Linked DNA regions of Homo sapiens: region 2 is linked to region 1. Evidence: fine-mapped expression QTL. A gene starts in region 1. The other region holds a variant in brackets. All regions are shown on one strand. Distances are from middle to middle.

Region 1 (4,384 bases):
CCTGAGCCCGTTCGCCTCACCCCAGAGCTCAGGGGAGTGCGAATCCTGCAGCTCTTTTGTGAGGCACAGCTCCAACCTTCCTCTGGGGGGCCCCATGGGTGCGCCAAGACCAGTGCCAATGACCTCATCAAATTCACAACAGGCAGTGAGGAAGACGATGAGGAAATTGGCTCGGAGAACGGAACCGCAGCCTGTTCAGCACCAGTTGACACCACGCTCCCATCTGCTGTTGCGGCTTCTTCACTCTGGCCTAGGCCAGTCCCCTGGGCCAAGAGAGCTCGCTCTATGAGCCCGAGGCTGCAGGCTGGGTCTGGGCGAGGTGGGGGCTCTGATGTCAGCCCGGGAGCCAAGGTGGCTGCCTCCCTCACTGACTGAGGGATCAGTAATTATTTCATTTACAAGCAGAAATAATCCAACTCAATAATCCAGGCAGACACATTCAAAGTAATTATCTGTGTAAGGCGTCCTGCACCATCACCTTCCTAGGAAGGAGGAAAAGAAGCCTAGCCCAGCAAAAAAAAAGCAGGTGGGGACCCCCATTGTCTGCAGCCTGTGTGCAGCAGCCTGCCAGGATTAATTACACACCAGTGCTAACACATTTATCACCTCGCCGCTGATTGGAAAACCAATGACTTTTAATAATTCATATCTGTGGCTCGGCACTCTGTGCCCTTGTGCAAAGACACAGAAACTCGCTTGTTTCCATAAGGAAAGCCCAGTGGCAGTGCCAGGAGGGGTGCCTTCAGCCCCTCCTGCCACCCCAACCTGGAGACAGGCCAGAGCCTAGCCGCTCCCACCTCCCCTCCACCAGCAGGGTCTGCTCATGTCCTGCTGAAGCTAAAATGCAGCTGCTCGGGGGTGAAAGCTGGCGACTGAACCGTCCTAGCCACAGGAGCCCTCCTCAGTTTCATACTCTTCCAGGGTGGCCTGGAAAACAGGATTTGGGAGATTTGTAGGGCAAGTGCCCGCAGTGCCCCCGCACCTGCCCAGACAGTGGGCTCAGGCAGATACCTGCCAGCCAGGACCCTGCCCCACCATGCAGGAGACCCTCAGCAGAGTGCACCACTCAAGTGATCAGATTGAGGGTAAAGGGTCTACAGGGCTTTGGGAAGAGCCTCCAATCCCTGAAGGCTGCAACCTCCTCTGACACCAGCTCTGAGCTCCAGCCTCCTCCCCACCACCTTCCACCCTCCTGCAGCTCTCCCTCCCCACCCCTGTGCCCCGGGGATGGCTCTCCCTCTATCCCGGTTCTCCATCTCTGCTCTCCCAGGCTCCACAGCCCCCTTCCCTGCCCTGGCTGGCCTGTTGTCTCAAAGAGCATTTCCCAGGAGCCTCTTCTCCCTTCTTCTCCCTTCTCCCCCACCCCCGCCACTTTCCTGTCTCGCCCCGCTTCCCTCCCCTTCCACTGTAGCCCTCCTTACCCTTCTCTGGCCAGTCCCCCAACTGTCCTCCTTTCCTCAGACTCCTCACACAATACCTCGAGGCTCTTAGCTGGCTGCAGCCTGGTCCCATCATTATAAATGCCATCCCCTCATTCCCTGCCCTCCTCTACCACATACCAGGCTCCAGCTCCTTCAAGAGCTCCCCACTAAATCTGAGACCCCCAGAGCTCAGATGCGTCCTAGGAATTGGAATCCAAGAGCCTCTGTCACCCTTCGACCCAACCTCTGACTCATAAGAATGATACACACCCTGACCCCTCCCCACGCTGAGGAAGGTGAGTCCCTGGGGCTGACCTGAGCCTGACCCTGGACCCCCTCCCTCTCTCCTTCCTGCTGGCAAGATTAAAGGGAGGGTGGGCTGGCCTCTCTGTGCTAGCTTGCGTGGGGGACCCCTGCTGGACCCTAGGAAGCTGCCAGCCCCAACGCTGCCTTCATCCAGGAGATGCAATTCAAATGTAATCAATTTAAACAGCATCAGCCCTGACAGGGGACTCTGGAGGTGGGGGTGGGGGCACAGGGAGGGCTATAATTAGCATTCTCAGCATCCATGATCCCCAAGTAAGGCTGCCAAGGATGAGAGATGGGGAAGCCAGTGCTCCGCAGTGCAAGCAGCCCAGGCTCACGCGGCAGACAGGCAGCTGCCAGCCCTGACCAGAGCCCAGCCTTCCTCCTCCCACCTCATCTATGTGATGCATGAAAACAGACTCACCGGCTTCTGAGGTGTGATCCCCGCGCTGGAAAGCTCTAACTCTGCGAGCCCCAAGGCACCCCTCCCCCCAGCTCAGGCCAGCTGGGGTCCTCCTCCCCCGCCCCTGGGGCCCCCTTCTGCAGAGCGGGGCTCCGGATCTAATCTGATCTAATCAGTCATCTCTCCGGCTGGCAGGTCCCTGGCGCAGGGAGAGGATGCTGTTGTGGTTACTGCAGGATCCAGCATCTTTCCCAGGCAGAGGCAGCTGGGCATGCTCCATCGGCTCCCCCGGGGATTTCAGGGCCACGTGACTCTCCCTCCCCAAGCTGTCACTTAGGATCAGGAGTAAATAGTCCCCGAAAAGGTTTAACTCCATCCACACCAGCGACAAGCTGCTAACCATCCACGCAGCCTGCCTGCCCGGGAGAGGATGGGGTGGCTCAGCACAGCCTCCTGGGCCTTCCACCACCAGGAGAAGGCTGCCCCCCAAAGGGGAGCAGGGCCACCGTCTGGGTAAGCTGCATTTTTAGAGTCCCCCACAAGAGACTGCAGGGAGCCAGAAACTGCCCAGGGTCTTAGAATCATGTGTGGGGCCTCACCCAGCCAGCCTGGTGATCACCTTTCACCTCTGTGGCTGTCTACTCCAGAGAGGGGCACGTCTCTAGGTGTCAAGAGGGCTTGGCTGGGGCCCTGGGGCCTCCCCATCCCCCGCCCCCCCCCCAATATGGTGAATTTAGAGAAATAACATTTGGAGAGGGTTGGGGGCCACTATGAGATGCCAGGATGAGTGGGGTGTGAGTGGGTTGTGGAGCCACTGCCCCCACACCAACCAGCCAGGCTCCTCCCAGGCCCTGGGAGGGAAGTCTGTGCTCCTGTTCCTTCCGTTGCACATTCCTTTACAGATAAGGGCTTCAGTTGGTAAAAATGATATAGGTACTCAGATCACACTAAGACAGACCCACTTGTATTGGAGTCGAGAGGCTTAATTTTTTAATCAAGTTGTTCTAATAATAAACAAAAAATGCAATTATCAGGTGAGTGGGGCCTTGCAGAAACCCTTTCTCTAGCTCCTGCCCAAATCGGTCTTGATAACCCTGAGCAAGGATGCTAGCCAAGCTACGGGGTACCTGGGTTCTGTATTATTCAGGATCAGAGGCAGAAGGAAGGACTTCAGACAATAGGGTCGTAGCTCTGTTTCTGCTTAGACAAAGATTGCTTTCTGCCTCAGTTTCCCTTTATCCACATCTCTCTCAGTTTTCCTCTATCCACGGATTCTCTGTGACAATGGGCAAGTGTAATAAAAACACTGATTTCATAAACAGGATCAGAAAGATGGAAAAAACCAAAAGATTCCCACCTCAACCTCCAGGCAGGCTCGCTGGTCTCAGTCCCATCTGCCCCTTAAACCTGGAAACTGGGGACTGAACCAGATGAGCTTCTGGAGTCACTTCTGAATAGAGAAATATGTCAAGAAGCAGGAGCTAGAGAAAGGGTGTCTGCAAGGCCCCACTCACCTGGTGATTGCATTTTTTGTTTATTATTAGAACAACTTGATCAAAAAATTAAGCCTCTTGACTCCAATACAAGTGGGTCTCTCTTAGTGTGATCTGAGTACATATATCATTTTTACCAACTGAAGCCCTTATCTGTAAAGGAATGTGCAACGGAAGGAACAGGAGCACAGACTTCCCTCCCAGGGCCTGGGAGGAACCTGGCTGGTTGGTGTGAAGGCTGTGGCTCCACACCCCACTCACACACACCACAGCATTGGAGGAAGACAGGGACCTAGAGAGCTACTGAAGGGACTGTCTTTCCCACCCCAGGGCAGGCCAGGCTGGAGCCAGGAATCTGGGGTTAGGGCAGCAGGCGCAGCTCAGCAGCACTCTTGGGGAGGGGGACTCTTGGTCACCTCCCACTGTTCCCCTGCCCAGCTGAGATGTCAGGCCAGCCCTGCATTGGCTATAGGAAAGCTGCTCTGCTGAAGGGGCAGACAAGTTGTGGATGAGGGCCCAGTGCCAGGCAGGACCGATCAAGCCCAACTCACCTGCCCTGGCTCTCCAGGACTTGGCAAGGCTGCCAGGTGCAGGCAGGGGGAGAGTCTGCTTTCAGTCAGCCAAGATGAGGGGCTCTTGGGGGTCTCTGACCCTGCGGAGCCAGTGGAGGAAAGGAGTGGAGGCAAGAGATTACAGCATCCCAGAGGGAGGCCGGGGAGGGGGACAGAGACCCCAGCCCAAGCCCCCACAATCCTCAGGCA
Region 2 (4,384 bases), 73 kb before region 1:
CAAAGGGAGCCTAGGAACAAGGGCCACCCAAGGAACCAGCCAGAAAATGACTGTGCCTAGGAGAGCACTTGCTGCAGACTGAGACGATCCTTTGTGAGCTCCCCTGACGCCCCCGAGAGGAAGAGGGAGATCTGGAAAGGGACTGGAGAGTTGTGAAAAAAGCTGGCACATGATGGCAAGGAATGGACAGCGTGTGGATTGTCCTTAAGGAAAAGGGTAAGGCCGGTGGTCTCAGAGTCAGGAGTCTTGGTAACTGACCACTACTGAGTCACTGTCCCTTTCTGGGTCTCAGTTTCCCCACCTGCAACATGTAACGATACTGGAGTTGCTGGGAGGACTAAATATTTAAAACCTCTAGAAGAATGCCTGGCACATTGAGTTGTTTAGTAGTGGCTAATGTTATAATCATTAATAAAATAAGGGAATACAATAAATAGCACTATCCTAAATTTGCACCAAGTTGATAGCCACTAGCCGTATTCTATCTTGAATAATTAAAATTAAATAAAATTAAAATTTCAGTTCCTAGTTACACTAGCCACATTTCACTGTGTCTCAAGAGCCACAGTAGCTAGTGGTTACCATACGGGACAGAATAGTCACAGGACATTCCATCATTGTAGAACATTCTATTGGACAGCACTAGGCTAGATGTTCTCTAAGCCACCTTCCAGTTCTAATAGTTTTGAATTCTATGAAATGCAATTCTAAGCCAGTGTATCCTTCCACCAGCTGATGAGCTCAGTGTCTTCAGTAAATACAAGTTCCCTCATAGACCTAAACTAAGCTAAAAAGAAAGGAAAATCTGCTGTCAACAACAAAAAGTTAAAAATCAGAAATGATATACTCCAAAGTTCACTCAGAATTAATCTGGACAATCCATTGTTTTCGTTTTTTTGGGTTTTTTGTTGTTTTTGTTGTTGTTGTTGGTTTTTTTTTGGTTGTTTTTGTTTTTGTTTTTTTTGAGACACGTTCTTGTTCTGTATCCCAGGCTGGAGTTCAGTAGTGCGATTTTGGCTCACCGCAGGCTCCGCTCCCTGAGCTCAAGCAATTCTCCCACCTCAGCCTCCCCAGTAGCTGGAACGTCAGGCACGGGCCACCACGCTTGGCTAATTTGTTGTATTTTTAGTAGAGACACGGTCTCGCCGTGTTGGCCAGGCTCATTATTTTTAAATCACATGCATTAAGACTCCTCTGCACAGTTTGAAAGTATCATTACTAACAGCACTGGCCTGGTAGGAAACACTGGAAAAGGTCATCCAGCAGCTTAAGGAGGCTGGGAGAGAAGAGTTGGAGAAGGAAGAAGAGTTGGGGAGGAGGCTGGAGACACAGAGGACCTGTTCCTCCCTCCTGCTTTCCTTTTCCTTCCTGGATTGGCCAACCTCTAGCTGACGCTTGGGGGAGGAGGAGGAAAGGGAGGTCTTCTGTGGGGCCATTTGGTCCAGAGCAGGAGAAGCTGGCATGGAGGAGGACAGGGTAGAGGAAGTACCACCAAGGACAGCAGGCTTAGGATTCTTCCTTCCCTGCACCTCCCCTTCCCCACCCAGCACTCATCCAGACCTGGATCCTATGGAAATCACAGGTAAACAACCTGTTGCTAAGCAGACATCACAAGAAGCAGGTGCCAGAGAGCATCCACTGATAACCGGGGCTTACAGAGGGGAGGGAAGACAATCTCAGAGGAACGGAAGAGGTGCTCCTAGGCCTAGACCTAGCCTAGAGAACCTGCTGGCTATAGCCCAGATAAGGAAAAGAGAGGGCCTGAGAAGGAAGGCAGGGAGGCAGTCAGACAAGGGACACTGCTGTTCCCACCCCTGTCCTGCCACGCAGCAGCCGTGAAGAAAGACTGGGCATGGAGGCTGTGACAAGGAGGAATAGAGTACTCTGGGAGGGGAACAGAGAGGAGGAAAGGGAAAGGGATGCAGCACAGGTGCCAGCCGGGACAGAAGCCGGCCTCCATAAGTGACACCTGAGTAACAGGTGAGCCTGCCTACACCTGTTGGAGTATATGAGCAACTATTCTGCACCTGCAACTTCTGGCTGGGCCAGGAAATAAGACCAGCTGCACAATTTGCGGGCCCCTTGTGCAAAACTTAAGGATTTCAAGACAGCAATAGCAGAGCATTAAACCAAGCATGTGGGGCAACTGCACAGTTTGCATCCCCCATGAAGCCCCCCTGCCCTGCCTGGAAATAACAATCCCAGTATACTTCTCCTGGGAGTGTAGGGATGGAGGTTGGCTAGTCACATTTGTGGCTGACTCTCAATATGAGGCAGAACACAACAAGTATCCCCGTTCCTCTCCTATACTCTACTTCCCCTTCTTTCTTGGCCTCAAATGCCCAGAAACTTGGCTGCTTCTGCTCTCGCCCTGCTGGGTCTAGTGGCTGGCACCTTCCCCCTA[T/C]TGTGCCTGGTTTCTGTTTGCCCATGGGCAGCCCAGCCAGAGGAAGCACCACAGCTGAAAGCCACAAGGGGGTTGGGTTTACCTTATCGCTCGAATCTGCTTTCTAAACTGGCACAGGGAGCACCCTGTTCCCACCTAATAGGCTCTCCAGAGCCCCGAGTTCCTCCCTAGGTTCAACCTAGCATCACTATGTCATCGAATCTCTTTCCTCCCAAGAAAGAGGCAAGGGAACAAAAGGGCTCCTAGCTGGGGGCGGGAGGAGAGTAAAGTAAGCACTTCCTTTTTGGTGACAGTCTCCCTCTTTTTTTTTTTTTTTAAATCACGTGGGCATTCATGAGTACACACACAGAGAGATAGCATCAGCTGAGAAAAGCCAGTGCGTCCACCTCCTCCTCCAAGCCAAGGAATTCTTGTCCACACCCCCTCCACAAAACTGTCATTAGAAGGTGCCAGGGTCAAAGAGCACAAATGTTTTGGAGGTTGAAGGGATGAGGGACCTGAAGGGGAAGTTGAGGGAATGGGGGCAACAGAAATCTAAATGCAAAAGGTTGGTTCTCTTTCTCCCTGGATTTCAGTTTTGTTCTCAACTGACAACCTTGTCTTCTTAATGAGTGAAGAGTTCTCCCCGCAACTCTCTGCACCCACCCCCGCCAGGTTCTGTCTTACCCTACATCTCACCACACCTGACTCTGCTAAGTAAAAGGATAAAACCAGGAGCACAGCCATGCCAGTCTCCTGTGGCTCTGTCCCCTCCACCTTCCTCCCGTGGCCCCATCCAGGAAATCGGCCCACAAGAGAGGCCGACGCTGCTTCTGACCAGAGCTACCGAGCGCCTCTCTGGAGACAATGGCTCAGAGAGAAGGAGGAAGACTAGCAGCTCCAGCTTTGTGCTCAGGGTGGCCACACAAAACCATTGTCTTGACATCAGGACAGACAATGGTTTGTATCTCTGGCTTCTGCGCTGAGCAGTTCACTCCCTTGGACTAAGATAATTTTAAAGATTTCCTTCTAATAAATAGTAATGATACTGGAATCTGGCCTCAAGCTGAGAATTTGTATCTGGTTGTAACAAAAGCCCACTCTGGCTGATAGAATGGGTATATCTAGGCTTCCTTTTCTGTTCCAGAGCCACCCAGACAAACATAGACCAGACAGATAACCACTTACTCACCGGCTCTTCTTTGCTGTTCCCTCTGCTGCCTCTAGCCCTGACTCCTTTCACACTGAGGAGTAGGGAGAAGGTTTTCCTTTAATACTCACCAGGTCCCTGGTGGGTAGCAATCATTAACAGCCACACATGCTGGCTGGCCTTAACCCCTTCAGTGCTGGGTTGCCTCAGCCAGCCGGAGCTGGCTGATGGACAGCCCTGTCCCTTCTACTCTGCCCTGAGAAAGTAGCAACTCCCACCTTGATGCCATCCACCTGAGTAATGCTGCCGCCTCCCATGTGGAGAAGGAGAGCCCTCTAGTCCCACCCAGGCCGCCCCGCCTGATTGGAGCACACTTGCAACCTGAGGCGTTTGGCTCTGGCACGATGCCCAATTGGATGAGCCCACATTATGAAATATTTGCCTGGCGGGCCAATAGAGGAACTGGGATCTGGGGGAGGGATGATATTGTTATTTATTCCTGGAGGAAGGAGAGCAGACAAAGATAGTCACAGCATCCCTAGCCCTGGGATGGGAAGCAGTGGGAAGGTGGTCTTCAGATCCATGGAACTGCCTCTAACTGCTCTGTCCAGGTAGAGTGAACTAATTCTTGAAGCTTTCTAAGCAATTTGAGCCTGGCTGTTCAGCTAGAGGGTTTGTTTTTATTTTTATTTTTTTACCTTAATGTCTCTCTGCGCCACTCAGAAGTTTGGAGAGCAGCACTAGGAATTGTAATAGAGATTAAGAGGAGAAACACATTGTCAGTCAAGGAACTGCTTCATATCTGCATAAACTATGCAACCACAGTTATTGTTTATAGTTCAAAGTTGCAG

The links. PIP is the estimated chance that this variant, and not a neighbour inherited with it, causes the effect.
Region 2: its variant is fine-mapped to the expression of PLEKHA6 in whole blood (TOPMed, PIP above 0.99).

What each region holds. Positions count from the first base shown.
Region 1 is chr1:204,357,543-204,361,926 of GRCh38, forward strand. PLEKHA6 (pleckstrin homology domain containing A6) reads right to left here and starts at 2,387. Exons shown (of 23, transcript NM_014935.5): 1 at 2,152-2,387. RefSeq lists enhancers at 1-597, 598-1,524, 1,640-2,275.
Region 2 is chr1:204,284,530-204,288,913 of GRCh38, forward strand. The region is part of intron 1 of PLEKHA6 (pleckstrin homology domain containing A6); the gene reads right to left. Among named protein-coding and RNA genes, the nearest start is that of GOLT1A, 73 kb to the left of the region's middle. The variant T/C (reference allele first, on the strand shown) is at 2,405.